Linked DNA regions of Homo sapiens: all the other regions are reported to be linked to region 1. Evidence: microRNA targets listed by miRTarBase, many of them from high-throughput screens and not tested one by one. Region 1 holds a microRNA gene; each other region holds the end of a gene's coding sequence.
What was found. Region 1 holds the annotated microRNA hsa-miR-5700 (UAAUGCAUUAAAUUAUUGAAGG, at 5,805-5,826, shown strand). A microRNA usually pairs through its seed, bases 2 to 8, with sites in the 3' UTR of a target mRNA and lowers its output. Matches are read on the target gene's strand: a 7mer-m8 pairs with bases 2 to 8, a 7mer-A1 pairs with bases 2 to 7 and ends in A, and an 8mer does both.

Region 1 (10,764 bases):
ATTAAAATGAATAATAATCATGGATTACAACCCTTTGAATAAAATAGGAAACAGTGATTCCATACTAATATTAGCAAATAGATGAATAAATTGAAAGTTTGGTGAGAAATGGGAGGTACAACATACTTCTCCACTAAATCCTCATTAATTACTCATGGGGACAAAACATCTTTACAGTGAAGGGGCCTAGAAGACACCTTAATTATCAAAGCAAAATCATCAATAATGGGACAAATGGAAACTGAGCTCTATGTGACAGGATGCAATGAGAACAGTATCATTTCTGTGATGTTCTGGCCAAAGATGGATAACTTGAGTTTAATCACAAAGAAACACCAGATTGTGGGACATTATACAAAATGACTGGCCTATAATCTTCAAAAGTGCCATGATCATGAAAGTCAAGGAAAGATGGGAGGAATTCTTTCATTCAGGAGACAAAAGAGATAACTAAAGGTAACCTGTAATTCTGAACTAGGTCATTTTGCTGCAAAGGCAATTATTGGGACAATTGGTGAAACTTGAGTGGGGTCTAAGGACTGGATGTCAGTAAGACATCTATTTACCTTCCTGATTCTGACAGCTGTATTATGGTTTTGAAGGAGAGCGTCTTTATCTGTAGGAATTACACGTTAGAGTAACTGCATGTGACCGGATATCAGGTTGGCAACTGATGGTTACTCTCAGGTGGTTCAGGAAAAATATAATTCTTTGTACAGAACATCCAACTTTTCACTAAGTTTATGATCAGTTCAAAATTTTTAAAAATTTAAACAAATAAATTGATTTACATATAGAACTGAACATCTCTAAATATATAGTAAACGTTATTACATATTATATTTTTATTTATGCATTAATAATGTATAAATATAAAGTACTAAAACCTGGGAGCAGATCTCAACTTCCTTATGCCCAATGGGAATCTTCAAGCCCCTGAAGTTCCAAAGAGGTTCCAAAGAGAGCGAGCCAGGCCTTGGGAGGCTGCATAACTATAACTGAAGGCTGGGTCCCTCTCTATACCTTCTGACCATCCTATTCTGAGAAGATGGCTTTCAAACATCCTAGAAAACTCAAAATCAGAAATTCTAAATTTCTAATATTCTGTCCCTGGGCTCTCTATTCTGTTCCATTGGTCTATCTGTCTGTTGTTACGGAAGGATCATGCTGTTTTGTTTACCACAGTTTTATATATATTTTGAAATCAGGTAATGTGATACCTCCAGCTTTCTTCTTTCTGTTCAAGATTGCTTTGACTATTTGTGGTCTTTTGGGATCCCATATATATTTCATAAGTGTTTTTTTATTTATGTGAAGAATGTCATAGATATTTTGATTGGTATTTCATTGAATCTGTAGATTGCTTTGAGTAGTATGGACATTTTAACAATAATAATTATTCCAATCCATGAACATGGGATATCTTTCCACTTATTTGTGTCTTGTTCAATCTCATTCATCAGTGGTTTCTAGTTTTCAGTGTACAGATCTTTCACCTCCTTAAGTTTATTCCCAAGTATTTTAATTTTTGGTAGCTATTGTAAATGGAATTTTCTTAATTTCTGTTTCAGATAATTTGCTGTTAGTGTACAGAAACACTGCTAATTGTATAGTGTTCTCATAAATCACTGAAATCCCAGAAATTCTGCTAATTCAGGATCCCAAAGGCATGCCACAGATTGTTTCATGTCCCTGGAAGTGACTTGATGGTTTGGCATCAGACAGAGGAGGGTTTGATTTCCAATTCTACCATTTCTGTACCATTTCTCACCCTTTCAGCACCATTGCCTCTTGTTCCTTCATGTGTCAAGTAAGAAGATGACAGTAGCTTCTTCTTAGGGCTGCAGTGTAGATGAAGTGAGATAATATGTAAAGCCCCTTAGCCCTCTGCCTGGAAAATGACATATTCCATGAAGAGGAACTTGTTCCCTTTATCATTTAGAAGTTCTTTGTAAGTCATATTTCCCTGTTTTGACTCCAGAAATGTGGTCATAATTTCAATAAAAGTGGAAAGTACCTAAAGTCAGCCTGGGCTGGGCTCTGAGGTGTGCTCTTTTTTTAGCCAGGGTGGACTTCAGACTCCAGCAAATTTTATGAGATTAGCTTTATAGCCCAGAGTTCCTCCTAGTGTGGGGTGAGGAGAGAATGGGAAGGGCATGGTGAGGTAAAGGTCAGTATCAGGGAAACTGAAGTCAAAGAAAGCTGTTCAGAAGTGGCAGCATTCTAGTTAGATATCTTTATCCCTTTGCATCGGGGGGGTTTTTGGAAGGTTGTAGTAAACCCAACCATAATCAACACTATTTATTGAACACCAGCTGTCTAGGTACGGCAGATAAGAAAAAGACACACTCCCAGTCCACCAAGTGCTCACAATCTAGGGGCAAAGGAAAATAGCCCCAGTAGATATCTTTTTTTTTTTTTTTTCTTTTTGAGATGGAGTCTCACAGTGTTGTCCAGGCTGGAGTGCAGTGGCACCATCCCAGCTCACTGCAACCTCTGTCTCCCAGGTTCAAGCGATTCTCCTGCCTCAGCCTCAAGAGTAGCTTGGATTATAGGTGCCTGCCACCACACCTGGCTAATTTTTTTTTTAAATAGAGATGGGGTTTCACCATGTTGGCCAGGTTGATCTCAAACTCCTGACCTCAAGTGATCCACTCGCCTTGGCCTCCCAAAGTGCTAGGATTACAGGTGTGAGCCACTGTGCCCAGCCAGATATTTCATTCTCACAGTACCTGGGCTGCTTTGCTCATTGCATTGATTAAACACCACCTACATATGTGCCTGACACTTGGCAAGGTCCTGTGGGAGGACGAGATGAGTGAAAGAGCAAGGGCATGCTCTGGTCACAAGGAACTCACTGTTTACTTCAGGAGCAGACATAAAAGAAACACTTCTCAATAACTAGGAAAAAGGTATTTAGACAGCATTTCTTTACAGAATACAGAGTCAGGAGGAGAAGAACATGAGGGCTTTGCAGAGCTGACATCTGAAAGGGTCTTGAAGGAGAAGAAATGTGATTGCAGGCAGAGGAGGTGTTTGTGTGTCACCTAAGGGCATGAAATAGCAAGGTGGGCTCAGGGCTTGAGGCGTAGAGCATGCAATGGGGGTGGGGGGTGGGAGATGAGGCTGGGGCATTGCATGGACTTCAGTACACTGGGAACCTAGTGGGCTTCACTCAGAAATTCAGACACGACCCTCTGGGCAAGAGAAGCCACTGAAAATTTTAAGAAGTGGAATAAGATGATCTGATTTGCATTTTAGATCACACAGGTAGTTTACATGGTGGATGCATTGGGTATGGGCAAAACTGAAGACCCGGGACCACATAGGAGACTGTTACAACTCTCCTGGGGGGAAATAATGGTGCCCTGAACCAAGGTAGGAAAGAGTAAGGTGGACAAGTTTTGGGTGTCTTTAGAAGGTAGAGTTTGACACGATTAGATGGCACTGGTTAGAAAGAGGGGGAATGGCTTTAAGATTTCTAGCTTGGGTGGGTGAATAAATGGATGGTGTTGGTGCCTTTATGGAATGAGGTAGTGTAGATAGAGCAGATTTGAAGTAAGGGCAAAAAAATGAGGTTGGTTTTATATTTTGAGGTGCTCTAAGGATGTCTATGTAGAGATGAAGGGGAAATAGAAATATGGTCTGTGGCTCAGAAAAGAGGCAGGTACTCACTACATAGAGGCAGTGGAATTAGTCTTAGAGATGATGGCTGAATCACGGGGAGTCTGTGCAAAGGGGGTGAGATGGAGATAATGCAGCCAAAGAAGACTAGAGGGTGGTCAAGAGGTGGCAAGAGAACCAGAGAGCGGCATCAAGGAAATACCCAACAGGCTGGGCGCAGTGACTCACGCCTGTAATCCCAGCACTTTGGGAGGCTGAGGTGGACAGATCACTTGAGGTCAGGAGTTCAAGACCAGCCTGGCCAACATGGCAAAACCCCATCTCTACTAAAAATACAGAAATTAGCGGGGCGTGGTGGCGCGCCTATAATCCCAGCCACTTGGGAGGCTGAGGCAGGAGAATTGTTTGAACCAGGGAGGCAGAGGCTGCAGTGAGCCCCACTGTACTCCAGCCTGGGTGACAGAGTTAGACTCCATCAAAAAAAAAAAAAAAAAGAGAGAGAAAGAAAGAGAGAAAGAGGGAGGGAGAGAGAGAGACAGAGAGAGAGAGAGACAGAGAGAAAGAAAGAAAGAGAGAGAAAGAAAGAAAGAAAGAAAGAAAGAAAGAAAGAAAGAAAGAAAGAAAGAAAGAAAGAAGAGAGAGAGAAAGAAAAAGAGAGAGAGAAAGAAAGGGAGAAAAGAAAGAAGATATCCAAGGGAAGCAAAATGTTTCAGATGGGAGGGAGCACCGCAAAGGGAAATGACTAGAAGTTTAGTAAAAACACAGGCTGTGAAGCATGCACCAGAAGTGCAAATGGGTCCTCGGTGACCCCATTGAGAGAAGTTTTAGGGGAGTGCTGGGGGCTGACACTAGTTTTTAGTGGATTAAGAAATCCTGGGAGAGAGGAGTAGAGACTATTCTTTTAAGAAACGTGATAGTGACAGGGAAGAGAAGGAATAGTGAGCTGAGGAAATGCAGGATCATAAAAGTGGGTTTAGGACAGCAGCAGCTGGACATCTGTGTATGCTGAAATGAACCCACTGGAAAACAGGTGCTGATGAAGGAGGTGCCGGCTCTCAGAAGAGGCAGGAGGCCCAGGTGGGAGTCTGTCTTGGACAGAGGCCTGGAGTGGTATGAAGGAGGGGTGAGCCGAGGGGAGAGCTGAGGCCTGATGAAGTGGGGACCCTAGCCCTCTGCAGAAGGGAAGCTATTCGGCAAGGGGGTGCCAGGGAAGGCAGCGGCTTCCTCAGCACTTGCTGCGGGAAGAAACACTGAAGTCCCAGGCTTCCAGGTAATGCTGTTTTCATCAGCAGAGCCCCGCTGGCCTGAGCTGGAATTCTGACTGAGCAGGTGACATGGGCAAGGGCCGGGGGTGAGGCACAGAGTCTGCTGCGGAAGCATCTGCGGGGTGCAGTAGCCAGTAGAGGCGGCCCCGTGTATGCCTCGGGGCTGGGCGTCCCGCAGAGGGGGTTACTCACTGCTGACTCAGCCCCAGGTGCTCATTTGCATGTTACTCATTTCAAGCCAAAAACACTGGAGCAGGAGTACAGGAGCATCTCATCCCCTTTCCAAACAGAACCACCCCAGGTCTTCCCAGCGCTCCTGCTGCTGTGCCGAGTCTCTCTGACCCAGAAATATTTCTACTTTGGAAGAGTCTACTAAGCTGTGCTGTATAGCTATCTGTGAAATTGAGCTGAAAAATTCAAAGAAACACTCAGAAAATTCATTTTCTCTGTAAGGATATCAAGGTAAGTTTAACATGCCAAGAGCCTGGGCCTTCCCCCTTCCAAATATTATCTTATTTTCACCTGACTTCTCCCCCACCAGAATGTAACCTCCAAGAGGATAGTAACATTGTTTTGTACTCTGTGCCCAGAACAGTGCACGGCATGTAGCAGGTGCTCAATAAATGGATTAAATTCTGTAATCCCAGCACTTTGGGAGGCCGAGGTGGGCAGATCACTTGAGGCCAGGAGTTTGAGACCAGCCTGGCCAACGTGGTGCAACCTCGTCTTTATTAAAAATACAAAAAATTAGCCGGGCATGGTGGTGCCTGCCTGTGGTCCCAGCTACTCAGGAGGCTGAGGCAGGAGAATAGCTTGAACCTGGGAGGCGGAGGTTGCATGAGCAGAGATTGTGCCACTGCACTCCAGCCTGGGCAACAGAGCGAGACTCTGTCTCACATAAATAAACTAATTAATTAATGCATTAAATTATTGAAGGCCCTTGGGCACCCCAGGCCTTCAATAATTTAATGCATTTATTGAGCATCTACGATCTCATCTAACCCCTATAATCCTAGGCAGTTAACAGTTTAGGAAGGGGAGATTCTCAGAGGTGAAACACCACCCCTCCCATCCCCTCATCCTCATTTAATCAAATTGCCAGTAAGGGGAAAGCCCCCGAGTTTCGAGCTGGGCTTCCCACATGTCATGGAGTTCAGAAATGCCTCTATCAGTTTATCAGGTGCTCACTCCTGTGAAACTGATTCATGCTAACGGATTCACTCTGACAAGAATATCCCCGAGAAGAGAAAGCGAATGTAGTGATTTACATTCAAGCATATACAGCTGCCAAGGAGCTGAAACGTTCTGCCCTGTCGGACAGCTCAGTCTGTCCCCAGTAGAAAGAGTTCACTGAGGCTGCCAAGCAGTCGCCAGCTTGGCTTGGAGCCTGCACAGAGTCGATAGCCTCAGGGAGGCCATGAACAAGCTCTGTGAACCAGAAACCCAGAAGACCGAGTGCAGCTGGCCAGGCAGGATCCCCGCCTGCTCTAGGGACACAGCTGCCACTCTCCAGCTCACCCAGAGAGCCAGCCACCGGCCCCCTGCAACCCTCTACCTTCTCTTTTGAGAATGATTGCTTATTGACTGAATGGGTCACCTCCATTCCCTCTCATTCATGGTTTCCATGGACTTTCCTTTTTCTTTTCTTTTTTTTTTTTTTTTTTTGAGACAGAGTCTCACTCTGTTGCCCAGGCTGGAGTGTAGTGGCGTGATCTTGGCTCACTGCAACCTCTTCCTCCCGGGTTCAAGCGATTCCCCCGCCTCAGCCTCTGGAGTAGCTGGGAATACAGGTGCGCGCCACCATGCCCAGTAATTTTTTGTTGTTGTTGTATATTTATTAGAGATGGAGTTTCATCATGTTGGCCAGGCTGGTCTCGAACTCCTGACCTCAAGTGATCCACCCGCCTCGGCCTCCCAAAGTGTTGGGATTACAGGCGTGAGCCACTGTGCCCGGCCTCCATGGATTTTCTTAGTCAATTGTTTGTTGTTGACAAGGCATAGCAGGAAGTCACCTTGCAATTCTGACCATGTTTGGGGACAGCCACCTTTCTGAATCCAAGCATGTCTTTGGGTCTCTGCTTGCTTAAGCCACTGTGTGTGGGGATGTATAAACTTCTACCTGTGGCCTAAGTTTTGGGGTCTTACAGTTCACTGTTCCCGGGAGCTACAAGACCTGGGCATCAAAACACAGAATAAATATGATGAAGGAAGAGAATTCAAAACCACTTTGGGAGGAAACCCCTGGTAGAAGGCTAGGCTAGCACTGTTGCTTGTGACATTGACAGTCCAAGAATCAGAGAAGGATCCAGGCCTCCAAGAGCTTCTTTGGCAAATGGGGTCCCTTACTGCTAGTACAGACCAGAAAGTACATGACTTTATTTTATTTCTACTACTCAGTGGCTTATTTTAAAGCACAACGGGAAAAAAAAAAAAAAGGAAAAGAGAAAAAAAGAAATCCAATTCTCAATGCCTAAGCCAGAGCGGAGTAACCACCAACAAAACAGCTGTTAACATGGCTGACGCATGTTCCTGTTAACTGCTTTAGTCAAGTTAAAGGCCTGGCAAGGGAGAGATTCTGGCTGGCTTAGCAAGGAGAGAGATTTCTGAGGTAGCCACCACAGATGGTAGCAGATGTCACGCAGCCTCAGAGCAGAAGCCACCAGAGACTTCACTGTCTTGGAGCTGAGCAAAAAAGCTGAGAAACACTCAGCCACGTCAACAGCCAATTACACACCTCAAGAATCTCAGGAAGCCAGGGAGTGTGTAAAAGTTTCTATAATTAATTGCTTTCCATTCTCTTTATCCACAAATCTGTCAGCTCATGGCTCTTCAAAAATCAAGGATGCTAGCTTCAGGTATCTCTGCCCTCACCTTGTATGGCCAGCAGCATGAAGATGGAAATGCACAATTTGTAACCACATTATTGATTGCTATAGTCCTAGGATTAAAAGTGATCCCTGACTGACAAGAAGCCAGTTGTTCAATTCCTTCTATTATAGTGTAGGGTAGCGGTCACCCGTAAAGGCTAGAGTCACACAAGCTTGGGGATCCCCCAGTACCTGCTGCCTGATGCTGCTCACTATTTTCCCTCTCTGAACCTCAGTTTCTTCATCTACGAAGCAGAAATAATAGTGCCTGTCTTGTTGGGTGTTGGAATGATTATATTTGATAGTGCAAGTAAAGCACCTGGCACAGTACATTGTACACAGTAAATGTCAAAGAATGCCAGGTATCATCCCAAATCTATGAATGCCCAGAAAGGTGCTGTTTGGTATTGCCATGTTCCTTACATGACCCACAAATTTCTACATCTCATAATCATACCTATTTAGAAAATAACTCTGTATGTGGGGCTGCAGATATTCATAGATTTAATTGCAAATTTTAAAAGGCTATTATTGTTATTAAGACTTTAAGTTACTTTGTCAAATGGTGACTATGGACCTCCTCAAATGTACAAGATAACTTCTTTTTTTTTTAATTCTTTTTTTTTTTTTTTTTTTTTTGAGATGGCAGGGGGGTTCTCACTATGTTGCCTAGGCTGGTCTTGAACTCCTGGGCTCAAGCAATCCTCCCACCTTGGCCTCCCAAAGTGCTGGGATTACAGGCATGAGCCACAGCACCCGGCCCAAAATAATTTCTTACATTAGAAATCCGGTGGGGCATGGCTGCTCATGCCTGTAATCCCAAAACTTTGGGAGGCCAAGGTGGGAGAATCACTTGAGCCCAGGAGTTCAAGACCAGCCTGCACAACAAAGTGAGATCCTGTCTATACAAAAAATAAAATAATTAGCTGGGTATGGTAGCACTCGCCTGTAGTCCCAGCTATTTGGGAGGCTGAGGCGGGAGGATCACTTGAGCCTGGGAGATGAAGGCTGCAATGAGCTATAATGGCACCACTGCACTCCAACCTGGGTAACAAAATGAGACCCTGTCTCAAAAAAGAAAAAATCCATACATTACTCAAAACTGGTAAATACTGCTTTATTCTATAGCACTATGCTTAATGAAGCTTGAAACCAACTAACATAACTTTTCCCCATTTCTTTTTTTTTTTTTTTTTTTTTTTCAGGGAAACACAGAATTGGTAAGGTGTTTTCCCTAATGCAACATTTAGGAATATGCTGGGCTGGACACATATTTCATTCAATCACTTCCATTGTCTGTATTCATCCTCAGACATCAAATGACAAAAGTGTGCAAAATAACAGTTGTTCCCCATAAGATTTCCAAATATTCAGCTATGCTCCATTTTCCAGGGCACAGAATGGGCTACTGTAGTTAAGAATTTTTCTATCATCTGAGAGTTCTAGTTAGTCTGTCTGTACAGGGTGAGTGACCAAAGTAGAAAACTGGTCAGGACATGAAGTGAAGAGGGCTAAAAAGGCAAGATGAGAAAAACAGAGTCGTGAATTCTTCACCAGCCAAGACCTCACGAAAGGCTCGTGTGTCTGGGCTTCCATCCCACCCGCTGATAGAGGCAGTCCCCTCTCAGCCGCGGCGCTGCTTCTGTGGTTTCAGTTACCCGCAGCCCACCAAGATCCAAATATAGCAAATGAAAAATTCCAGAAATAGGCCGGGCGCAGTGGCTCATGCCTGTAATCCCAGCACTTTGGGAGGCCAAGTCGGGTGGATCACCTGAGGTCAGGAGTTCAAGAGCAGCCTGGACAACATGGTGAAACCCCGTCTCTACTAAAAATACAAAAACTAGCCAGACGGAGAGGTGCATGCCAGTAATCCCAGCTACTTGGGAGGCTGAGGCAGGGGAACCGCTTGAACCCGGGACGCGGAGTTTGTAGTGAGCTGAAATCGCACCACTGCACTCCAGCCTGGGTGACAGAGTTGTCTCAAAAAAAAAAGAAAAGAAAAGAAAGGAAAAATTCCAGAAATAAACAATTGGTAAGTTTTCAACTGTGCGCCATTCTGATCTGGCAGTATCCTGTACTGTCGCAACTGGGACCTGAATCCTCCCTTTGTCCAGTGTATTTATACTGTAGACCAAGCTTGTCCAACCCACAGCCCATGGGATGCATGCGGCCCAGGACGGCTCTGAATGCAGCCCAATGCAAATTTGTAAACTTTCTTAACACATTATGAGGTTTTTTGTGATTTTGTTTTAGCTTATCAGCTGTCGTGTTAGTGTATTTTATGCGTGGCCCAAGACAATTCTTCTTCCAATATGGCCCCGGGAAGCCAAAGAATTGGACACCCCTGTAGACGCTTCCCGACTGTGAGTCACTTAGCAGCTGTCTTGGTTATAAGATCAACTGCTTCTGCTCAAGTAATTTTTATTTTACTTTACTACAGTACATGGTCATAATCACTCTATTTTATTATTAGTCATTAATCTCTTACTGTGCCTCATTTATAAACTTTATCATATGTATGTATAAGAAAAATGGTGTATACAGGGCTCAGTTCTATCTGAGGTTTCAGGCATCCCCTGAGGATAAAGGGGGAATATTGTAGGAATAGCGTTGGTATCTGTACTACTGGACTGGTTCATAGGAGTTCACACACTGTGAAATCAAGTGCATTGTAGACACCAAAGCCCCAGACAAACTGGAGACAGTGCACTAAACCGACTGCTGGAGTCAGGCGTCTGCTCCCTCCTGTGCTGCTGCCCTGTGCCCCCCCCGGATTGGCATTGCCCTTGGTGTCTCATTCCAGCTTATGAAGGCTGTGCTTTGTCCTCGCCATCACTTCCCCTTTTTCAACACAAGGACATGTTTGCTAGCATCTTAGCATGACTGTGAATAAACTACTCTTCCTTCTGCCGGGGCTCAAGCAATGGGCCACACATCACCAACTTCCTACGATATATAGAAGACTTGAGATTCATTTAAAAATTGACTACAGCGGGAGAGGAGGATGA
Region 2 (10,764 bases), not on the chromosome of region 1:
ATCTATCTATCATCTATCTATCTATATCTATCTATATATATATTTTTTGAGACTGAGTCTCGCTGTGTCAGCCAGGCCCAGGCTGGAGTGCAGTGGCGTGATCTCTGCTCACTGCAAGCTCCGCCTCCCGGGTTCACGCCATTCTCCTGCCTCAGCCTCCCGAGTAGCTGGGACTACAGGTGCCTGCCACCACGCCTGGCTAATTTTTTGTATTTTTAGTAGAGATGGGGTTTCACCGTGTTAGCCAGGATGGTCTTGATCTCCTGACCTCATGATCTGCCTGCTTCAGCCTCCCAAAGTGCTGGGATTATAGGCATGAGCCACTGCACCCACCCCAAGTAAAATATTTTAAGAAGGCATGGGAATGTGGGGTTTTTTTTTTTGCTTAAAGGGTTAAATGATTGTTTCAAGTTAGGATAAATCTGAAGGTTTGTGAAAAATTAATGTTTTTTTTTGTTTTTTGTTTTTTGTTTGTTTGTTTTTTGAGACAGAGTTTCACTCTTGTTGCCCAGGCTGGAGTACAATGGCGTGATCTTGGCTCACCGCAACCTCTGCCTCCCGGGTTCAAGAGATTCTCCTGTCTCAGCCTCCTGAGTAGCTGGGATTACAGGTGCCCACCGCCACGCCCAGCTAATTTTTTTCTATTTTTAGTAAAGACGGGGTTTTGCCATGTTGGCCAAGCTAGTCTCGAACTCCTGACCTCAGTTGATCCGCCTGCCTCGGCCTCCCAAAGTGCTGGGATTACAGGCATGAGCCCCTGCACCCAGCCAAGGTTTTATTAAGAATTGGGTTTAACATTAATAGTACATTAATGCAAAGCTGAAACTGGTTTATTTGGTATAAAAATCATATAGGAAGCATTGCCAAATATGAAATGGTGGCTTTCTTTGCACTATATTTGTATAAATACATTATTGGTATGTGTTCCAAAATTATGGGAAACTCCTATAATTCTGATATGACATAGTGTATGTTATTAATAATTATAATTGTTATGTAAAATTATTGTGTACCATAGAGGTAACCAAAATTCCTAATCCATTGTGGCTTAAATAATGGCTGGTCTAAGAGTTTTTGTCATCCACAGACTATTGTTGTTTTGTTTTAATCCTCTTCAAAAGGTGGTGTATAATTAGCTGTAGGACTTTGACAAGTGCTGTTGAATGCAGGTTCCTGACAACTTTGAAGACTGTTACACTAGAATAGAGGAAAAAACTTTCAGGACTCTCATGGAGAGTTGAAATGTTCATGAATATCAACAGGAGTTAACTTCAAGGACTGAACTAATGGAAGACTGAAGTAATCTTTTTTGACCTTTTGCTTAAAATATTGCTAATCCTTTGTTTTGTTTTTCGGAGTCAAGACAACTTTTCTTTTGAGCTATTTACAGCTTTTAACAATTGAGTAAAGTATATTCCCATGAACAAAATTTGGAGTATATTTGTTTTCTCTCTACCTGATTTATCTTTTCAAAAAAGCTTATTTTTGCAAGCAAATCGGTCTTAGTATGATTTGTCTTTAGTAAAAATGGAAGACTGGAAAGAGAAAAAAATCAGGTTTCAAGAACAATGGTACACCTGTGATTAGATTCTAGTCTCATCAGTATTTTTTAAGTTTTTTTTTATTCTGCAATTTAGACCGACTGCTTATTCCTGTGAACCAACCAGTGATCTTTGGCTACAGCTTAGAAGAAACAAGAGAGATGGATGGGTACTGTGAAAAAAGTCTGGATAAGTATTCTAATTCTAGGCACATATTGGAATCAGCTGGCAACCCTGTATCAGCTTGGTTCCAACAGTTGCCCAGTTCATGGAAAGTCTTCTATTTAGTTTACTTGGGATAATTTTACTTATTTTGCTTTACTGTTGTGGAATATATTGCTGTTGTACTCTTTGTGTAGGAATGCAGGATAAGCTTACTGAATGTTTTCTTAAATTGAACACTTATTAATCTTCTAGATATTACCTTTTGTTGGAACTCAAAGTTATGAATGGCCCTCACCATACTGATGCTTTCTTACTGAGTGCCTCTCTACCACAAATACAAGAGACCCTAATTTGTTAACCAGGAATATCATTGCCCTTACTCACCCTGAAGAAGTTACAGAAGATGGATCTTTGTCCCTCTAGAACTCAGGATTAAGGGTTTTCTTATAAAAGGCAGGGGGAAAATATGTCAGAGGCATTCAAACCAGAGCAACTCCATCTTGAATAGAAGCTGGGTAAAATAAGGCTATGGGCCTATGGGCCTGCATTTTCAGGAGGTTAGGTATTTGTAGTCACAGGAAGAGATAGGAGGTTGGCACAAGATACAGGTAACAAAGACTTTGCTGATAAAACAGCATGCAGTAAAGAAGCTGGCCAAATCCTACCAAAACAAAGATGGTGATGAAAGTGACCTTTGGTCATCCTCACTGCTCATTATACATTAATTATAATGCATTAACGTGCTTAAAGACACTCCTACCAGCACCATGACAGTTTACAAATGCCATGGCAATGTCAGGAAGTTGCCCTACATGGTCTAAAAATGGGAGAAACCCTCAGTTCCAGGAATTGCCCACCCCTTTCCCAGAAAACTCATAAATAATCCACCCTTTGTTTAGCATATAATCAAGAAGTAACAATAAGTATAAGCAGTTGAGCAGCCCAGGCTGCTGCTCTGCCTATGGAGTAGCCATTCTTTATCCCTTTACTTTCCTAATAAACTTGTTTTCACCTTACTCTATGGACTTGCCCTGAATTCTTTCTCATGTGAGATCCAAGAAATTGGGACCCCTTTCCAGTAACAATACAATTAGAAATTTTGTCATCTAGAAATATCTTATTTTCCTTTTAGCTCATCTATGTTTTCTTCTTCTTCAACTCCCAATGCCCTTTCTTCTACCTCTTTCTCTTAGTCCAGAGAGCAGACAGGATGACAGGCAGGCTACTCCAACGTGACTGAGATTTTCAGAAGGTAATGGATTTGGTCTCTCCAATGAAAGGATGGATTTTCTTAAGGCTGTAGCTTGCTTAAATTTCAGGCCTTCTTCCTGATATTTCTTTTGAAAAAAATCAGTGAAGAAAGTGCAAGTGTTTCTCTGTGGCTGTCTGTTACATTAAGTAGAGGAGCATTAAATATCCTAATGTATAGGAAATACCTGATTACAGAATTTAAAAATTTAGAATGGAAAATAACTAGAGATTGTTCCCAAACTTAACAGATACGGTTCCATGTTAAAGTTGGAAGAATACATAGGTAAAATGTCTGGGGTCTGAGATATAATAAAATCAAATGCCAACAGGGCTAGCCTGGTAGACAAATAGGAAATGATGGAGGCTGTGGTAAACTGTTCAGAACAGGTTATGTCTAAAATTTATCTTCTAAAGGGAGTGGCCCCTACTCTCAGCTTTAGCTAATTGTTACCATGTAGAAACACAAGCCCTGTGTCATCAAGTTTTCTCATTTTTCTTTTTCTTTTTTTGAGATGGAGTCTTGCTCTGTTGCCCAGGCTGGAGTGCAGTGGCATGATCTTGGCTCACTGCAACCTCCACCTCCTAGGTTCAAGAGATTCTCTTCCCTCAGCATCCCAAGTAGCTGGGCCTACAGGCATGCACCACCACACTGGCTAAGTTTTGTATTTTCAGTAGAGACAGGGTTTCACCATGTTGGCCAGGCTGTTCTCGAACTCCTGACCTCAGGTGATCTGCCCACTGGGGCCTCCCAAAGTGTTGGCATTACAGGCGTGAGCCACTGTACTCAGCCTGAACTCTTAATCTTCATGTATTTTTAGAGTAATCAGTTCCTACAATCAATTTAATCTTTTCATACTTTTATTCCGTATTTGATTAAATTTTATGAAATTTAATCAATTTCATACTTTTATTCCATAGGTTGCTTCCTTTTTTTAGAAAAAGGCTTTCACATTAGGTTTGTTGCTAAACTGAATAGTCCTTTCCAAACTAAAGACCCAATTTCTTTAATATTAAATAGCATGTCTCACTTGGGATTATATTAGAATGAGGTGAATATATTAGCTTTGTATTTAACATAGAATCAGCTTAATTAATGTTAAAAAATATTTTTCAGGCCAGGCGCGGTGGTTCACACCTGTAATCCCAGCACTTCGGGAGGCCAAGGCCGGCAGATCACTTGAGGTCAGGAAATGGAGAGCAGCTTAGACAACATGGTGAAACTCTGTCTCTACTAAAAATACAAAAATTAGCCAGGTGTGGTGGCACTTGCCTGTAATTCCAGCTACTCGGGAGGCTGAAGCAGAATGGCTTGAACCTGGGAGGTAGAGGTTGCAGGGAGCCATGATTGTGCCACTGCACTCCAGCTTGGGGGACAGAGCAAAACTCTGTCTCAAAAAAAAAAAAAAAAAAAAAAAATTCAGGCTTTAAGTTAGTAATATAACTGTTTCATATTTCCAGATTTTATTTTACACCCAATATTATTACACTAAGCAAGATAAAGGAAGACTAAAATTACCGAGACTACAGGTAATCAATAAAATTCACCGGGGCCTGTTGTGGGGTGGGGGGAGGGGGGAGGGATAGCATTAGGAGATATACCTAATGTTAAATGACGAGTTAATGGGTGCAGCACACCAACATGGCACATGTATATATATGTAACAAACCTGCATGTTGTGCACATGTACCGTAAAACTTGAAGTATCAAAAAAAAATTCCTTAGGGAATGGGGATATTACGATTTGCTTAATATTCCGATTAACATACTGATAACTATATATACACGATTTGGCTGATGACAAAATACACTTAATACTAAATTTAAAATATAGTTTAGTTTTGCATTGTATAGTACATTATGGTCACTGCTATAAAGCATTTATTAAAGCATGATCCACAATTTGTATCAGAACCATGTACATTTTTTGTTTGTTTGTTTTAGACGGAGTCTCGCCCTGTTGCCCAGGCTGGAGTGCAGTGGTGCGATCTTGGCTCACTGCAACCTCCACCTCCTGGGTTCAAGTGATTCTCCTGCCTCAGCTTTCCGAGTAGCTGGCATTACTGGTGCGCGCCACCATGCCTGGCTAATTTTTCTATCTTTAGTAGAGATGGGGTTTCACCATGTTGGTCAGGCTGGTCTCGAACTCCTGACCTCGTGACCTGCCCGCCTCAGCCTCCCAAACTGTTGGGATTACAAGCGTGAGCCACCGCTCCCTGGCTTTTTTTTTTTTTTTTTTTTTGAGACAGAGTCTTGCTGTCACCCAGGCTGGAGTGCAGTGGCACGATCTTGGCTTACTGCAAGCTCCACTTCCTGGGTTCACACCGTTCTCCTGCCTCAGCCTCCCGAGTAGCTGGGATTACAGGCTCCCACCACCATGCCTGGCTAATTTTTGTATTTTTAGTAGAGAGGGGGTTTCATCATATTGGCCAGACTGGTCTCAAACTCCTGACCTCAGGAGACCCACCTGCCTCAGTTTCCCAAAGTGTTGATTATAGGCATCAGCCACCGTGCCCAGCTTTTTTTTTTTTTTTTGAGATGGATTTTTGCTCGTCACCCAGGCTGGAGTGCAATGGCGTAGTCTCCCAGATAAAATTTAAGAAAAACAAAAAATCTAATTTGGAATGATCCTATAGTGATTGTTAAAAATGCAGTTTCTCTATGTGTACTGATACATAATAACCTCCAAGACTCCAAGATACCTTAAATAAAAAGCAGCAAGGTGTAGATCATACACGGTATGCTATCATTTTTGTAAAGAACAAACACGATGCATCCATTCATGCTAACACATACAGTGATCATCTGTGGAAGGACACACAAAGAGCTGACACTATCTCTTGGAAGGGAAGTAACATAATTGGAAGGCAAGGTAAAGGAGAATACTTGTTTTATGCTATGTATCACTTTATACCTGTCAACTTTTTTTATATCATGTGTATGAACCACCCATTCAAGTAAATTACCTAATATAAAGTCATCTTAAATTGCAGATTCTCAGGCTTTTCTGGCCTATCTCAATAAGAATCTTTGCAGTTAGGATTTAGAACTCTTAACTTTTTAGAACAGGGTTTTGCCACGTTGCCCAGGCTAGTCTTGAACTCCTGGGCTCAAGGAATCTGCCTGCCTTGGCCTCCCAAACTGTTAGGATTACAGACATGAGCCACCATGCCTGGCCGGAAATCTTAACTTTTAGAATGTTCCTCAGATGACTCATGAACAGTCAAGTTTCAGACCACTGCTATGAACATTATCATCTTTGTATGACCTATATTCGTCCTTTTTTTTGTTGTTTTTTTTGAGACGGAGTTTTGCTCTTGTTGCCCAGGCTGGAGTGCAATGGCATGATCTCAGCTCACTGCAACCTCCGCCTCTTGGTTTTAAGCCATTCTCCTGCCTCAGCCTCCTGAGTAGCTGGGATTACAGGTGTGCACCACCACGCCCGGCTAATTTTTTGTATCTTTAGTAGAGACGGGGTTTCACCATGGCCAGGCTGGACTTGAACTTCTGACCTCAGGTGATCTGCCCGCCTCGGCCTCCTAGAGTGCTGGGATTACAGGCGTGAGCCACTGTGCCTGGCCAGTATTTGTCCTTTACTGGGAAATTTTTTTTTTAATAAAACGGCTCTGTCAAATTCAAAAAATGGTGGCTCCTCTAAAGGAACTGCTTATAAATTCATAACATAATAATGTAATGACCATGCAAAAACAAGACTTCTGCTTTTTTTCAGTAAGCAGAAAAATTATTTACAATATTGTTGACTTAAAAAAATCAGGCCAGCCTGTAATCCCAGCACTTTGGAAGAACAAGGCAGGTGGATCACTTGAGGCCAGGAGTTCACAAGGCCAGCCTGGCCAACATGGCAAAACCCTGTCACTATTAAAAATACAAAAATTAGCTGGGCGTGGTGGTGCACGTCTGTAATACCAGCTACTCGGGAGGCCGAGGCACGAGAATTACTTGAACCTGAAAGGCAGAGGTTGCAGTGAGCCAAGATAGCGCCACTGAACTCCAGCCTGGGTGACAACAGCGAGACTGTCTCAAACAACAACAAAAAAATCAGGCCAGGTGTGGTGGCTCATGCCTGTAAACCCAGTGCTTTAGGAGGCCGAGGTGGGTAAGGACTGCTTGAGACCACAAGTTTGAGACCAGCCTGGGCAATACAGCAAGGCCTCCATCTCTACAAAAAAAGAGCTGGGTGTAGTGACGCACACCTCTAGACCTAGCTACTTGAGAGGCTTAAGCGGGAGAATTGCTTAAGCTCAGGGGTTCGAGGCTGCTGTGACTATGATCGTGCTACTGCACCCCAGCCTGGGGGACAGAGCGTGACCCTGTCTCAAAAAGCAAAACAACCAAACAAAAGAACTGTCAGAGGATACTAAGGAATATTCAATCCAAGTTACTCTTTCATATAACTAATGTGGGTCTAGCCACAGCTATGAAAACAAGCTATGTAGAAAATACAGAAATAATTGTTTTAGTAAAAAACTTAAATGGTACCAATTGCATTTTTGGATGAAGACACTCAAACCAAATGCAAAATTTTGGTCCCAGATGGGCTGAAAACATCTTTAGTACATAATTGGAGGGTGAAGGAAGCAGCCTGGCAAAGTGCTGACCATGAACTTTGAAACTGTCACTTAAACAGTGACATAAGGTGTATAATCTTCATTTAGCCATTCTGGGCTCGTTTCCTCATCGAAAAAATATGATGTATACTACCTACAATTCACTTACGATAGTTTTAAATGGGAAAGTACATAAAAAGACCTAGCATGGCGCCCAGAATCAACGTGTAGTAAAGGTCAGTTCCCCTCCTTTTTTTTTTAAAGACAGGCTCTCACTCTGTCACTCAGGCTGGAGTGCAGTGGTGTGATCTCACTGCAGCCTTGACCTCCCAGGCTCAAGCAATCCTCCTGCCTCAGCCTCCCGAGTAGCTGAGACTACAGGCACGTTCTACCATGCTCAGCCAATATTTTTGTATTTTTAGTAAAGACGGGGTTTCGTCATGTTGCCCAGGCTGGTCTCAAACTCCTAAGCTCAAGCAGATCTGCCTGCCTCGGGCTCCAAAAGTGTTAGGATTACAGGCGTGAGCCATTGTGCCAGGCCAGCATTCTTCCAAGAGAATTGTTGAGGAACGAAATTCTAAAGGAGAGTAAAATGAGGCCCAGAGAAATTTACAAAGGGAAAAAAAGCCTTGTCCAAGTTAAACAGACAGTACAGGTTGAGCATATCTTAGCTGAAATGCTTGGGACCAGAAGTGTTTTGGATTGTGGAATATTTCTATCAGTTGAGTATCCCTAATCTGAAAATCTGAAATGGTCCAATGAGCATTTCCTTTGAATGTCATGTAGGCCCTCAAAAAGTTTCAGATTTTGACAATTTTCAGATTTTTAGATTAGATAATCTGTGTGTGATGAATCTGGGAGAAAAGTCTGAGTCTCCTGTTCTATTTCCCCTGTGGTCTCCTACAGTTTCCTGGCCCTCTAAGACTTTGGGGGAAGATTCTGACCCTCTAAGACTTTGGGGGTAGATTCTGACCCTAGAAAGAAATTAAGCCAATATAGTATTGAATTACAAAATTTTCTGAAAATTATGTGCTTAGACAACAAACATTTGTCAGGAATAACAAGATGCAGTACTCAATAAATTTGAATATGATTTTACTGAAGCATACATCATTTCAAAGCAAAAGTAGTTTATGTTGTCAATTCTAACATATAATACATTTAAGTCATTATATGAATTTCATTTTTTGTGTATTTCACTGTAGTGCTGTGACAACAAAATGACATCTGTGTACCAGAGCATACATATATCAACAGTAAGATGTAATTTTTCATTACATCACTGCTAGAATATTTAGCTTTGTGTAGGAGACATAAGCAGGTAAGATGGCCACACCAAATAATTTTCTGTTTTTTTCCTTAGATAATTTTTTATCAGTAATACTTTATCAACCTCACTGTTAACAGAACTGTAAATTATCTGGGTGATGGGGTGTGTGGAGAAGATCATCTGTGTTATACTGTAATAGTTGCTAGAGTAATCTCACACACACCAATAAGGAACTGTCACCATAATTAAGGGCTAGTTACTGTTGTTAGTTGTACAATGATGAAGTTCTTTTGAAAATATTGGTTAGCCCACTTATATGTGAAAAATGCCCTTTCCACTTATACACAAGAAAAAAATATTCAGAAAGTTATTTTTGGCCTTGCTATGTCAAAAAGTCAACTGTACAAAGATCTACGTGTTAAACCTAAAATTATGATTTTAAAAGTCTATTAAAAACAAGAATGTCATGCATTTTTATTATCAATTATGCAGAGGCTTTAAAACTGTTGCAAGACCATATAGTATATATTAGCTTTTATACTGCTAATGCACAACTAACAGCAAACTTGATTAGATTAACAGAACTCTGTCTTAATTACACCTTTATATATCACACTAGAGACAAATGCCACAAGATCTGCAGAAACATTCAGTTCTGAGCACTCGAATGGCAGGATAACTTTTTGTGTTGTAATCCTTCACATATAGAAAAACAAACTCTGCAGTCTCACGTTACAAAAAAACGTACTGCTGTAAAATATTAAGAAGGGGTAAAGGATACCATCTATAACAAAGTAACTTACAACTAGTGTCAAAAAGCAAACAAAACCTCTAAATTAAAATATCAAAATACACAGAGCAACTGAAGCACACATCCTGCATTAAATACAGTGAAGATTTAATAAGACAATGCACTAGTTAATAAAAGACACAAAAATAGGGGGGGAAGCTAGGGCAACCAGAAAATAAAATAAAAATAATGGGAAAAAATCGGAACTACTGTTTTCCCCCTAGTCGGAGCACATTTTTTTTTTTGGGTGTCTTTCCATTCAAATAATACCTAACACTGTACATTTTTTAATATCATAGAAAAACTTGGTTCTTCCATGAAATCCTTTAAATTCTTGATAAATTTTTCAATGTAGACATTATTATGAATGAAAAACAGCCAACAAATGGGCATCTGTTTTTTTAACACTGAAGATTTACAGACACTTTTTAAAAGTTATCATAATCTTTTTTGTCTTTTTTCCCCTCAGCTTCAAATCCATCAACTCCATCACTATCTCTTCTTCGTTTCCTGTTGTTGTGGATGTTAAAACGTTGGCTCATTTGCGGTAATGGATCCATGCCTAGAACTTTGTGTATCTGGCGGAATGCAAGGAGTCTCAATGCAAACTGCAACAAAGAGAGTCAGAATTTTGAGTTAATTGAAAAACCCCAAGTAGTAATACTTACTACATTTACCTCCCTCCAAATGCAACCTAAAAAAGCATGTGTAATGAAAGAAACATTTAAAGGAATTACTTTCACAACTGAAATAATCTGTATGTTCTCATGTTTTTATTTCCTAGCTTTTCTGTGTGCATGCCATTTTGTTATCTTAAACATTAAGTAAAAAAAAAACCAAAAAACTTTAACACACACACAAAATTACAAAAATTATGAGAAGTGACATCAAAGAAACAAGCAGGATGTTGAAAACAAAGAAAAATGGGAGCTACCTGCTTTAACAGAATGGTTGCTGATGGCTTTCCTAGGCATTTGGTAGACAGTATGTAACTTAAGAACTGTAATTATACTCATGTGGATGTACCAAACTTATTTACCTAATTTTCTACTGGTAAACACTAGGCTGGTTTCAGTATTTTTGTTTTGTTTTGTTTTTTGAGACAGAGTCTCGCTCTGTTGCCCAGGCTGGAGTGCAGTGGTGCGAGCTTGGCTCACTGCAAGCTCCGCCTCCCGGGTTCA
Region 3 (10,764 bases), not on the chromosome of region 1:
TAACATACTTTAGATCTCTATAGAGAAGAGTAGGTAAGGAGTGTATATACTTTTTAAATTTTAGGTTTTTATTATCTTTTGGATGCTTTTCCTCCCATTTTGGCTAGTACCTAATACATTCCGTTTTAGAACTGACATTAATTTTCCAATGAAAACAAAGCATTTTTAGTTTTTGGACAAGAAACCCCTCACTCCCTTCTTCACCACCTATCACTTACTATTAAAGATCCTGCAAATATGGAAAAACATGGGTAAGGCAGAAATGTATTCCTGAATACATGGTCACATTTTTAATTCAAGTTATGAATTTTAATTTCTAATATATATTTGAAATGTAAAGACTAAAAAGTTCATTTCTGTTGTTTGGAAATTTTATGATCTGGCTGCAGAAAGTTGTAAACATGTAAGATCTGTGAAGAATCCAAAGCCGTGGTTCTTAATCCTCAGACTCCTTTAAATTGAGCCTACCCTTAGTTTCACAGTGCACTGAATAGGATTCCGTTTAGAAATAATGTCCCCAAATCTTTTAATCTAAACTCTATTGCTTTTTTATTGGCATTATTGTTTTATCTGTGTTGTGTTTCTGCAGGATATGGTTTTGTACCATTAGAAAAAAAAAGTCACTTTGTTTCTTCATGTTCCTGCTTCTAAAATATTTGACAGATAATGAAAAAAACACACTTAGGAAGGTTGTGCTCCATTCCATGGAAATGAAGCAGCTGGTTTGACACAGTAGATATTCTCTATGAAAGCAAGAAAAAACTCAGATTTTTCAGATTGCATTTAAGTCAGAAATATTTTATTGACTAGGGAGAGTGTAACGGGCCAAAAGAGCTGTCTTTTCACTCAAGTCAAATATCACGCAAGAGTGCTAGCGCGCCTGCATTTCATCCCAGTGCCCACTTTCAATTTCAGCAGTGGCCCCCAACCATGAGCTGACTAAAGAAAGCAGGGGGTGATTAAAATCCCCAGGTGGTGAGTTTTGATTAATTCCCCCAAATGGCTTTATTTGTACCAGTAAGACTCGAAGCAGCTAGAATATAGTCCTTTTGTGTGGAAATGTGGCAGCTCTTTTCAGGAAGTCTTGCTGATGGATAAAAATAATGGAGAGCTCTGTTCTTAACCAATAAACTTGTGTTAGATTGTGTTAAGAAGATATTTAGATTTACATTCAGTTCTGGGACATTGTGCAATTTTAAGTTGTTTTATGATTTCTTCAGGAGTATTTCCAAGAGAACATTTAAATAAACTGAGTTCTTCATGTGTAGTACGGTACCCTAAACATAATTCTTGTCACTGTGAAAAGGGGTTTTTGGTTGGTTGGTTGGTTGGTTGTATTTTTTTTGAATGTACAAGTCAGAAAATATTTTAAAAATCTACCGCTCATGATGGCAAAGCTGCCATTTCTAACCATTTACAACCTATTAAATGAACAAGGCATATAAATCTGAAAATATTTTTTAAAATCTCAAGCTCATGATAGCAAAGCTGAGATTTCTAACTATTTAAAACCTATTAAATGAACAAGGCTGAAGTATTAAAGTGGTATGCCTTGCCAGTTAATTTAAAATGTGTTCATGAGTTTGTGCTGTTTGCTTTCTCCACACTCTGACTTTTCAGTCTCACAAACACATATGCTACTGGATGAATAATTTATGTTTTAGTGCATAAATATTTTATCACTCAATTGTTTGCATAGTGCATTTTTACATTTGTTTAGGGACATCATTTCTATGTAAAGTGGATTTCATAGGAGGTTAGCAATTTACTATGTCACTGTTAACATTCCAGATGTTGAATGTGGAGGAGGTTTTTATATCAGAAGCTTGGTCAGTGACATTGGAAAAGGTAAGCATAAAAATGAATTATGAATTATCATTTAGAGAATAATACTCCTTTTCAATTGGAAGAGGGAATTTTCCGTTTTTCTTATTTCTGAGTACTGGCCTTAGGAACTGAACTCTTGCTGCCTTCAGCTTTAAAAGCATTGTAGGTTTCTGGCTTGCAATTATCAGCCTCAGCAGCTGCAGTGAAATGTTTGTAATGGGAAAGAAGAGAAAGAGAGAACAGAAAACGAAGACAGGAATAATGAACGTAGGGCCAACATCTTTTCAAGTACAAAAGATTTTAACTCAAACTAGGGATCAAAAAAAAAAAAAGATTTAACCTTCTAAAAGTTATTTTCAAATTTTTTTAAACTGGAAGCCGTAGTCTTATAAACAGCCAGAAGGTTTCGGTTCTGGCTGTGCCATTTACTGGCAGTTGTCGCACTGGACAGGTCATATGATCTCATCTGTAAAGTGCGGCTAATCTTTACTCCATGGGGTTGGCTGCATGAGTTAAATAACAAAAATGTGTGCAAGTTCTTTGTTGATTTTAAAGCAGCTTATAAGGTGGATTATTAAGTATTATTTTGCTACTTAATCATTTCTTTATCTGAGGCCTCTTGGTTCTTATATTGGATTATTATACTTTTGGGTGGTTTTGAGAGATTTCAATTGAGTACGGTCATTTGAACAATTACAGACTATGAAATACTGAATCGTTTATCTTCTGGATTTTTTTTCTACCTTTTGTTGCCATAGAACTATCTTCCTGTGCCAATGTGCTAGAGCTGACCCGAACCAAACAGGGACCATTTACGCTAGAAGAACATGCCCTTCCTGAAGACAAATGGACAATTGATGACATTGCACAGTCTCTTGAGCATTGCTCATCTCTTTTCCCAGCAGAGTTGGCACTTAAAAAATCAAAACCTGAGTCTAATGAACAGGTTTTGAGCTGTGAATATATAACTCTAAATGAGCCAAAGAGAGAAGATGATGTAATTAAGACGTGTTGAGATTGGCCTGGGAATATCATCATTTTCTAGTTGACATTTGAATCCTGTGTGCAGATGCAGAATGACAAGCTGCATTCAAAAGACAAACAATATGTCTTTTTTTTTTTTGCATGAAGAAAAATGTCTATCATTTACAGTTTCAATAGCACATAATTTATTTTCTATGCATTATAAATGGCCTTGCAGTTGGCTCAGTTGTTTGTTGTGTTGTGAAATGTTTTAGGATTTTTTGTATTGTGAAAATATGAATATGATTGGATTCAGAAAAATTAACTTTCTGAATTTGATCTGTCTTCAGTCTTGTGAAAAAGTTGAACAAATTTCCTAATCAAAGAAAAAAGTATGAGCTCCATGTTTCTTTAGTTTCACAAAAATGACCATAATTTAGTGTTATTTTTACTTTATTTAGGCTTCCTGGTGGCTTCATTTTATTGAAATTCTTTAAATTGTTTAAAGTGGCCATTATTGATCTCTTTCTTCTGTTTTGGAGAGTTTATTATTAAAAACATTTCTTTGATAAAATGGCCATCATCTAGTAATACCTGTGTTTGTTTAGATCTTGGAAATGAATAAGCTTTGATAATATTTGTAAATGAACCAAATTATTACTGCTACCACTAACAGGTTGTAAATAGAAGACTAATACTTAATTAAAGTCACCTTCCTACCATTAGAGCAGAAGACAGCTCCTATAGTTTTGTATTTTGGCAGCTATGAGATATTTTCATGGTAATGTCAACATGGTCAAGCACTTTGTACCAAGTTATTAAGTAACATAATTTTTAAAATTTAAAGAATGTGTCTTCAACTAAAAACTTTATTCTTTAGCATTTATTTATATTTCTCTGTAGGGTGTTCCCTGTGACATTGTCTCTTTAGTTTGCTCTTTCAAGAGATACTTACAGATGTTGAGATGGCTGCCCTGCATTTCCAGCTAATCTCTTCTGCTCTAAATATTTAAAAACAGTTCTTCTCAAACATTTTCATTCAGATAGCTTTCTGAAAGTTCCCTATCCCTCTTTACCATAATTTTTTAAATGTAGCCACATTGTAATAGTAAACTTCATATATAATGAGTGCTTCATATTTTTGTTATGGGAAAGCAATATATTATGCAGCCAGTCTGTAGAAACATTCAGATCCCTCTTCCTTTACTCAAATACAGTTTCAAAAGGAAGACTCATGAGAAATTTCATAAAATACAAGTTTTTAGATGTTTATGCTTTGCCTTTCTTTTTAAAGGTGTTTTCCTGCTTTGTAGTCTCTAACTCTGAAATTTAAAATATGTAAACTAAAGTGGTTTTATTTGTGCTTAACCCAATTTAAACTCAATGTAAAATGTTATATATGCATCAGTACAGCATTTTCAACATATTGGCAACATATTTTAAATGAAAACACTAAAACAATTCTTAGTATGAGACAAAACTGTAAGGAAAAAGAGTGTTAATACCATGATGCATTAACATAAAATATCAAACACACAAAGTCATAAAATGAAAATTTACAGTTTTACCTGTTCATATCTAGTGCCCCACAGTGTGTGTCAACCAAAGGTGGCAGTGGCTACATCTGCCTGTTGGACTGGTACAGGTTACAATATGTCCTCTTCCATTGCAAATTAAAGTCCAAATAGAGAAATACTTAGGTTTTAGAACACATCAGAGGTATTTCTGCTGTATTTTTCACCTTAAAAATTGACACAGAGTTTACTAATAGAGGAGTAGAGATTGTTGACCATTTTTAAAAAACGATAGCCACTCTTTTTCTTTTATGTTTAAAACTGAAGTTTTGCCAAATGGGAAAATTACTGTTACCTCTACCATCTTAATGTAGTAACTTTAGAATTTAAATTTTTATATTACTATTTTCCTTTTTGTTGTTCACATAGTCTTAAGGCACCTATACTTTTAAATTGACTTTTTCATTTGATATTATCTATATGTATGTAGTTGTGATAATGATTATTTTAATTATATTACTTTATACTCTTAATTTATTTAGAGTATTTCTCTATTGCTGAATACTTAAGTAGTTTTAAATTTTATTATGATAAATTCCTGGGAGGGGGATTATTTAGTGAAATAATATGAAGAACTTTATGACTTATGTTTGCCTTATTGCATTCCCAAAGAGTTGTAACATTTTACAGTGTTACCATTTGAGTAGGGGTTTTATATGTTGTTGCTAATTTAGTAAACATAGGAGAGAAATCAAAGTTTTTCTGATTTGCTTTTATGTGATTTATCTGTATACTTTGTTCATTTATATAAATAAATGTCTTAATGGTTTCTATACATATTTGCATGAGTTATTTGTGTTGTAAATACCTGATAGAAGGATTTTTCACGGTCTGTTGTCCTTTTAGTTTTAATTTTCATTTTTGCTAACTAAATTTGCTAATTCTAATAACTCTTCCCCTTTTATCATTGTCAGATTAATAAGTATGAAAAATTTTAAATTTATTGAGACTTTAAAATCTTACTAACTCTCATAAGCAGTTGAAACTGAGATACTCTGAAAAGTTCAAGACTCATTCATAAAACAAATTAGTTTTCCCTGATAGTCTGGTATTTAAATACCAACTCAGTTTTTTTTTCATTTTTATCAAAATATTCAAGAAATTTCTGTGTCTTATATTTTTCTAGGTCTAAACCTTCATGACATGATAAAGTTGTTTTACTTGTAAGAAAACGATAAAAGATTTAAAAAATCCTGAAAATGTTTCAACCTGGAACATACCAAATCACTTCATTTTGACACTTTAAGTTTTTTATATTTGAAAAATAATGTCTTAAAAGTTGTTAAAAGTCATAGAATTATTTTATTTATAGTCTTAAAATCCAGGACCTTTATGTAATAGAAATTTGCTCTTTGCAAATTCAAAGTTTTGAAATGTGAATAAAGGCTAAACACAGTTTCCTCTACCTGTACTGACTAGATATTTTTTTCTTAAATACTTGAATTAAAACAAGCCATTGACTCATCATCAGAAATGAGTTACTGTATTAAATAAGAGTGCTTTGTATCAGATCTTCAGTACATTTTATGTCCCCTGACCAGTTTGAAATTTGTATCAGATTTACAATGAACATTTTGAGGTTCAATTAGATGGTGAATTGTTCTGTTTCAAAGAAAGTAAGTAATTTACCTTATATCATGATGTATACAATAGAAAGAGATGTGATTCAAAAGCACTGTAAAATGCCAAAACATTTAAATAGAGGAAACGATAATAGATATGAGGTTTATGCACTGAAATGAGTATAATGGCCTTGTAGTTAAATTTAAAGAGAGGGATTGTCTTGAAACCATTTCTTTCTCTAAGGTATGTATGGGCAGAGCTCTAGATTGTCCTAATTCTTCATTAAATACTATTTATTAAGCACATTTATTAAGGTGTTGAATCAGTAGTACCTTCATTTGTTAATGTGTGAGCTAAATTCTCTTTATGAATAGGAATATCTTCAGATTGCTGCTATAAATACTGATACCGGCCGGAAAGTTGAAGTTCGGGAATTATTTTGCTCTTCTTATCCTTAACCCTTAAAATGCAGCATATTAACTTTATTTCTGTCTTTACCGTTAGTCAACTTTTTGATCCTAGGTGAATCACTTAATCTCTTTAGGTCTCAAGTTTCCTTATCCTTACAACAAAGGAGACAGACTAGTCCATCTTGAAGAATCTCTCCAATGCTAAAATATTAGGCTTCCAAGTGTAGATAATTTGTGATTATTTTGCTTAGGAACTCATTCCTCATGAACTTGAACTTTTATATTTATCAGTTCTGGGGAATTCCCATCCTTCATTTCTTTGGATATTTCATCTCTTCCAGCTAGTAATCCTATTTAAGTCTTTTTGTTTTATTCTGTGTCTAATTACTCTTTCATATTTTCCATCTCTTTATCCCACTGTGCTGCATACTGGGGAATTTCCTCCAATCTTTTTTCCAGATAATGAATGCCTTTTTCTATTTTTATTTACTGTTTAACAATCATATATTTATTCCAATCACTCTTGTGTTTTATTTTTATTTATTTATTTATTTTGACACAGAGTCTCACTCTGTTGTCCAGGCTGGAGTGCAGTGGCGCAATCTTGGCTCACTGCAACCTCCGCCTCCCAGGTTCAAGTGATTCTCCTGCCTCAGCCTCCTGAGTAGCTGGGATTACAGACGTGCATCACCATGGCCAGCTAATTTTTTTATTTTTTATTTTTAGTAGAGACGAGGTTTCACCATGTTGGCCAGGCTGGTCTTAAACTCCTGACCTCAGGTGATCCTCTCTCCTCGGCCTCCCAAAGTGTTAGGATTACAGACATGAGTCACTGTGCCCCGGCCTTTTGTTTTTATTTCTACACCAGGTTTTTTTCCTCCAAAATCTGCCTCTTCTTTTTTCATGTGTTGTCTTAGTCTTTCATTAAGGTTTTAGTAAAAAAAATATTTTTTTTACTTTGGTATTTAATATACAGAAAGTCACACATAACTGTATAGCTTAGTGAATTTTCACAAACCAAACATGTCTATAATCAGCAACCAAGTCAAGAAACAGAACATCACTAAGCCCTCCAGAAGCCCCTACTGCTCCATCAAGATTATAGATTAGTATTTCATGTAACAATATAGATTAGTAATTTTGTCTGTTTTTGTGCTTCATATAAATAGAAGTATGTGATATGTTTTCTTTTATGTCTGGCTTCTTTTGCACAAAGCTACAATCATGAGGTTCTTCCATATTGTGGCTGTCTTAGCTTGGGCTGCTATGACAAAATGTCATAGACTGGGTGACTTTAACATACTTGTTTCTCACAGTACTGGAGGCTGGAAGTCTGAGATCAGGGTGTCAGTGTGGTTGGGTTGTTGTGAGGGCTGTCTCACTGGCTTGGAGAGGGCTACCTTCTCATTGTGTCCTCACGTGGCTGAGAGAGGAGGCTTTTGTCTTTCTTCCTCCTCTTATAGGGACGTTAACCCCATCATAGTGGCTCCAATCTCATGACCTTGTCTAAATTTAATTACCTCCCAAAGGCCCCACTTACTGTTCATTGTCATTGTTTACTATTATTCAGTTATTACCACTGTTGATCTATTTTACTGAATGATGGACACTTGGTTAGCTTTCAATTTTGACTATTTTGAATAATGCCTCTATGAGCAATGTAATACTTGTCTCCTGGTAAACATGCACACATTTCTGTTGGAATTTTTTTTTTTTTTTTTTTTTTTTTTTTTTTGAGACGGAGTCTCGCTTTGTCACCCAGGCTGGAGTGCAGTGGTGCCATCTCGGCTCACTGCAACCTCTGCCTCCCAGGTTCAAGCAATTATCATGCCTCAGTCTCCTGAGTAGCTGGAAATAGAGGCACACACCACTATACCCAGCTAATTTTTTTGTATTTTTAGTAGAGACAGGGTTTCACCATATTGGCCAGGCTGGTCTCAAACTCCTGACCTCAAGTGATTTGCCTGCCTCAGCCTCCCGAAATGCTGGGATAACAGGCGTGAGCTACTGCGACTGGCCTCTGATGGATATTTCTAAGACTGGAATCTAGGTTGTAAAGTATACACGTTAAGCTTTAGTAGATAGTGCAAGGAGTTTTTCTAAGTTGCTGTACCAGCAGCATATGGGAATTCTGATGGTTCCACATCCTTATCACCACAAAGTATTTTACGTTTTCTTCTTAACCATTTAGGCACATGTTTACTTTATCACAATATGGTTTTAATGAACTTTTCTCTGATTTCTTAGGGTTTTTAGTTATGTGTATTTTTTAGTCTAATTTTCTATGTAGTCTACTAGTCTATTTAGTCTTATTGTCTAGTCTAACAGTCTCTGTTAACTCAGTTATCTGAAATTCTTATGGAGTATGCTCTAATATTGCTTGTTGAATCTCCCAATTCTCAGCCAAGGTAGATTGTGTCCTACCTTGTGTTCTTTGTGTTGTAAACTTGGATTATGAGGTAATTCAGTGAGACTTTATGGGAGTGTGTGTGCTTGGGTTGAGAGTGTCCTTCCAGAGAGATTTTGGGATTGTTTCTGCTAGGCACACCAGAGATATCGCTGTTCCAAAATCCTCATCGTAAATGATCATTGCAGAGATGTTTTATTATTGTTGTGTTGTGTTTTGTTTAATTTAAAGCCTAAGTCAAAGAAAAGCTTCCTTGTTTTCGCCCTGTGTTTATGGTAAATTGCATTGTAGTCTACCATTTTATTAAATGTATAGTCCTTTAAGGGTACCAGTTTTATGCCTATGTTTGTGGGTGTCACAGTTCCAAAACCTGCCTCTCAAGATCCACACTTGGTTTCCATCCCCACTTAAAAGGCAAACACTTTGGTTACAGAGAGGAGTAAATCTTGCCTCCCTCCCCCACTACCTGGATTGCTGTAGCATCAAGAAGTATGTTTACCACTCTGGGTTTCAGATCGTTCTTTGTTTTGGACCCTGGTGAATTTCCTTAGTATAAGTTCAATTATTTTTTAAAGGAATTTTTAAAAAGTCACATTTATATGCAACAAAATTCACCATTTTAAGTGTATAGTTCATTGAGCCAGCTTGAGGTTTAACTTGCTCTTTTTCTAGTTTTAAAGTAGAGGCTTAGGTCACTTCTTTTTAAACTTAAGCATTAAATCTTATCAGTTTTTCTTTGAGCACTGCTTTAGCGGCATCTCATGAGTTATTATAAGCTGTGATTCAATTTAAAATAATTTCCATTGTGATATTTCACTTTACCTATTACTTAGAAGTATATCATTTACTTTCTGGATATTAGAGGATTTTCTATATAAAATTCTCTAGTTGATGTCTTGTTTAATTTCATTGTGGTGAGAGAATATAAAATACATGAACATAAAATGTGTGATTTCCATTCTTACAAATTTATTAAGACTTGTTTAGTGACTCAGAAATGGTCTACCTTGGAATTTGTTCCATGTACATTGGTTAAGAATGTGCTTTCATGGTTGTTGGGTGGATCATTCTGTAAATATCAATTAGGTCAAGCTTGTTGCTTGTGTTATTCAGGTCTTCCATAGCCTTAATGGGGTTTGTTTTGCTTTGTTTTGTTTTCTGTTTTTGGTCTACTTTGCCTATCAGTTACAGTGAGAGGAGACCTGCAATCTCCAATTATAATGTTGGACTTGTCTGTTTCTTCTTTCAGTTCTTTTTTTTTTTTTTTTTTTTTTTTTTTTTCACAAGAGGGAGGCTCACTGTGTTCCCCAGACTGGAATGTAGTGGTGTGATCTCGGCTGACTGCAACCTCCACCTCCTGGGTTCAAGGAATTCTCCTGCCTCAGCCTCCCAAGTAGCTGAGGTTACAGGTGCCAGCCACCACGTCCAGCTAATTTTTGTATTTTAGTAGAGACGGGGTTTCACCGTGTTTGCCAGGCTGGTATCAAACTCCTGACCTCAAGTGATCTGCCTGCCTCAGCCTCCCAAAATGCTAGGATTACAGGTGTGAGTCACCGCACCCAGCCCTTCTTTCAGTTCTATCACCTCTTTTTGCTATATTTGTATGAGAGCTTTATTATTAGGGGCACATACATTTAAAATTGTTATGTCTTATTGATAGATTGATCTGTCATTATGAATGTCTGTATTCATTCCTGATAGTATTTCTTTTTCTAAATATTTTTCTGAATGTGTCTGCTATTAACATAGCCACTCTGGCTTTTTAAAATTAGTATTTTTATGGTATATATTTTTCCTTTTTTTTTTTTTTAAGTTTTAGATGTTATGTTTCCTTATACTTAAAGTGGGTGTCTTATAGGCAGCATATATCTGGGTCTTGATGTATTATTTAATCTGATAATCTCAACCTTTTTGTTGGAGTGTTTAGGCCATTTACATTTAGTGTAATTATAGACATGGTTTGATTTGCTATACCATCTTTTCATTTGTTTTATATGTGAGCCATCTTTTCATTGTTCTT

Region 2: the mRNA of ZFR is a reported target of hsa-miR-5700. Seed matches in the 3' UTR shown: 7mer-A1 at 9,338-9,344.
Region 3: the mRNA of TRUB1 is a reported target of hsa-miR-5700. Seed matches in the 3' UTR shown: 8mer at 3,006-3,013 and 8mer at 4,300-4,307.

Annotation. Positions count from the first base shown.
Region 1 is chr12:94,555,990-94,566,753 of GRCh38, forward strand. MIR5700 (microRNA 5700) reads left to right here and starts at 5,800; the gene lies at 5,800-5,870. RefSeq lists enhancers at 4,802-5,428, 5,228-5,337, 7,378-7,447.
Region 2 is chr5:32,345,749-32,356,512 of GRCh38, forward strand. It overlaps ZFR (zinc finger RNA binding protein), which reads right to left. Exons shown (of 20, transcript NM_016107.5): 20 at 8,602-10,191. The coding sequence ends at 10,012. Among named protein-coding and RNA genes, the nearest start is that of MTMR12, 38 kb to the left of the region's middle.
Region 3 is chr10:114,972,538-114,983,301 of GRCh38, forward strand. It overlaps TRUB1 (TruB pseudouridine synthase family member 1), which reads left to right. Exons shown (of 8, transcript NM_139169.5): 7 at 1,792-1,848; 8 at 2,586-5,139. The coding sequence ends at 2,842. Among named protein-coding and RNA genes, the nearest start is that of LINC02626, 17 kb to the right of the region's middle.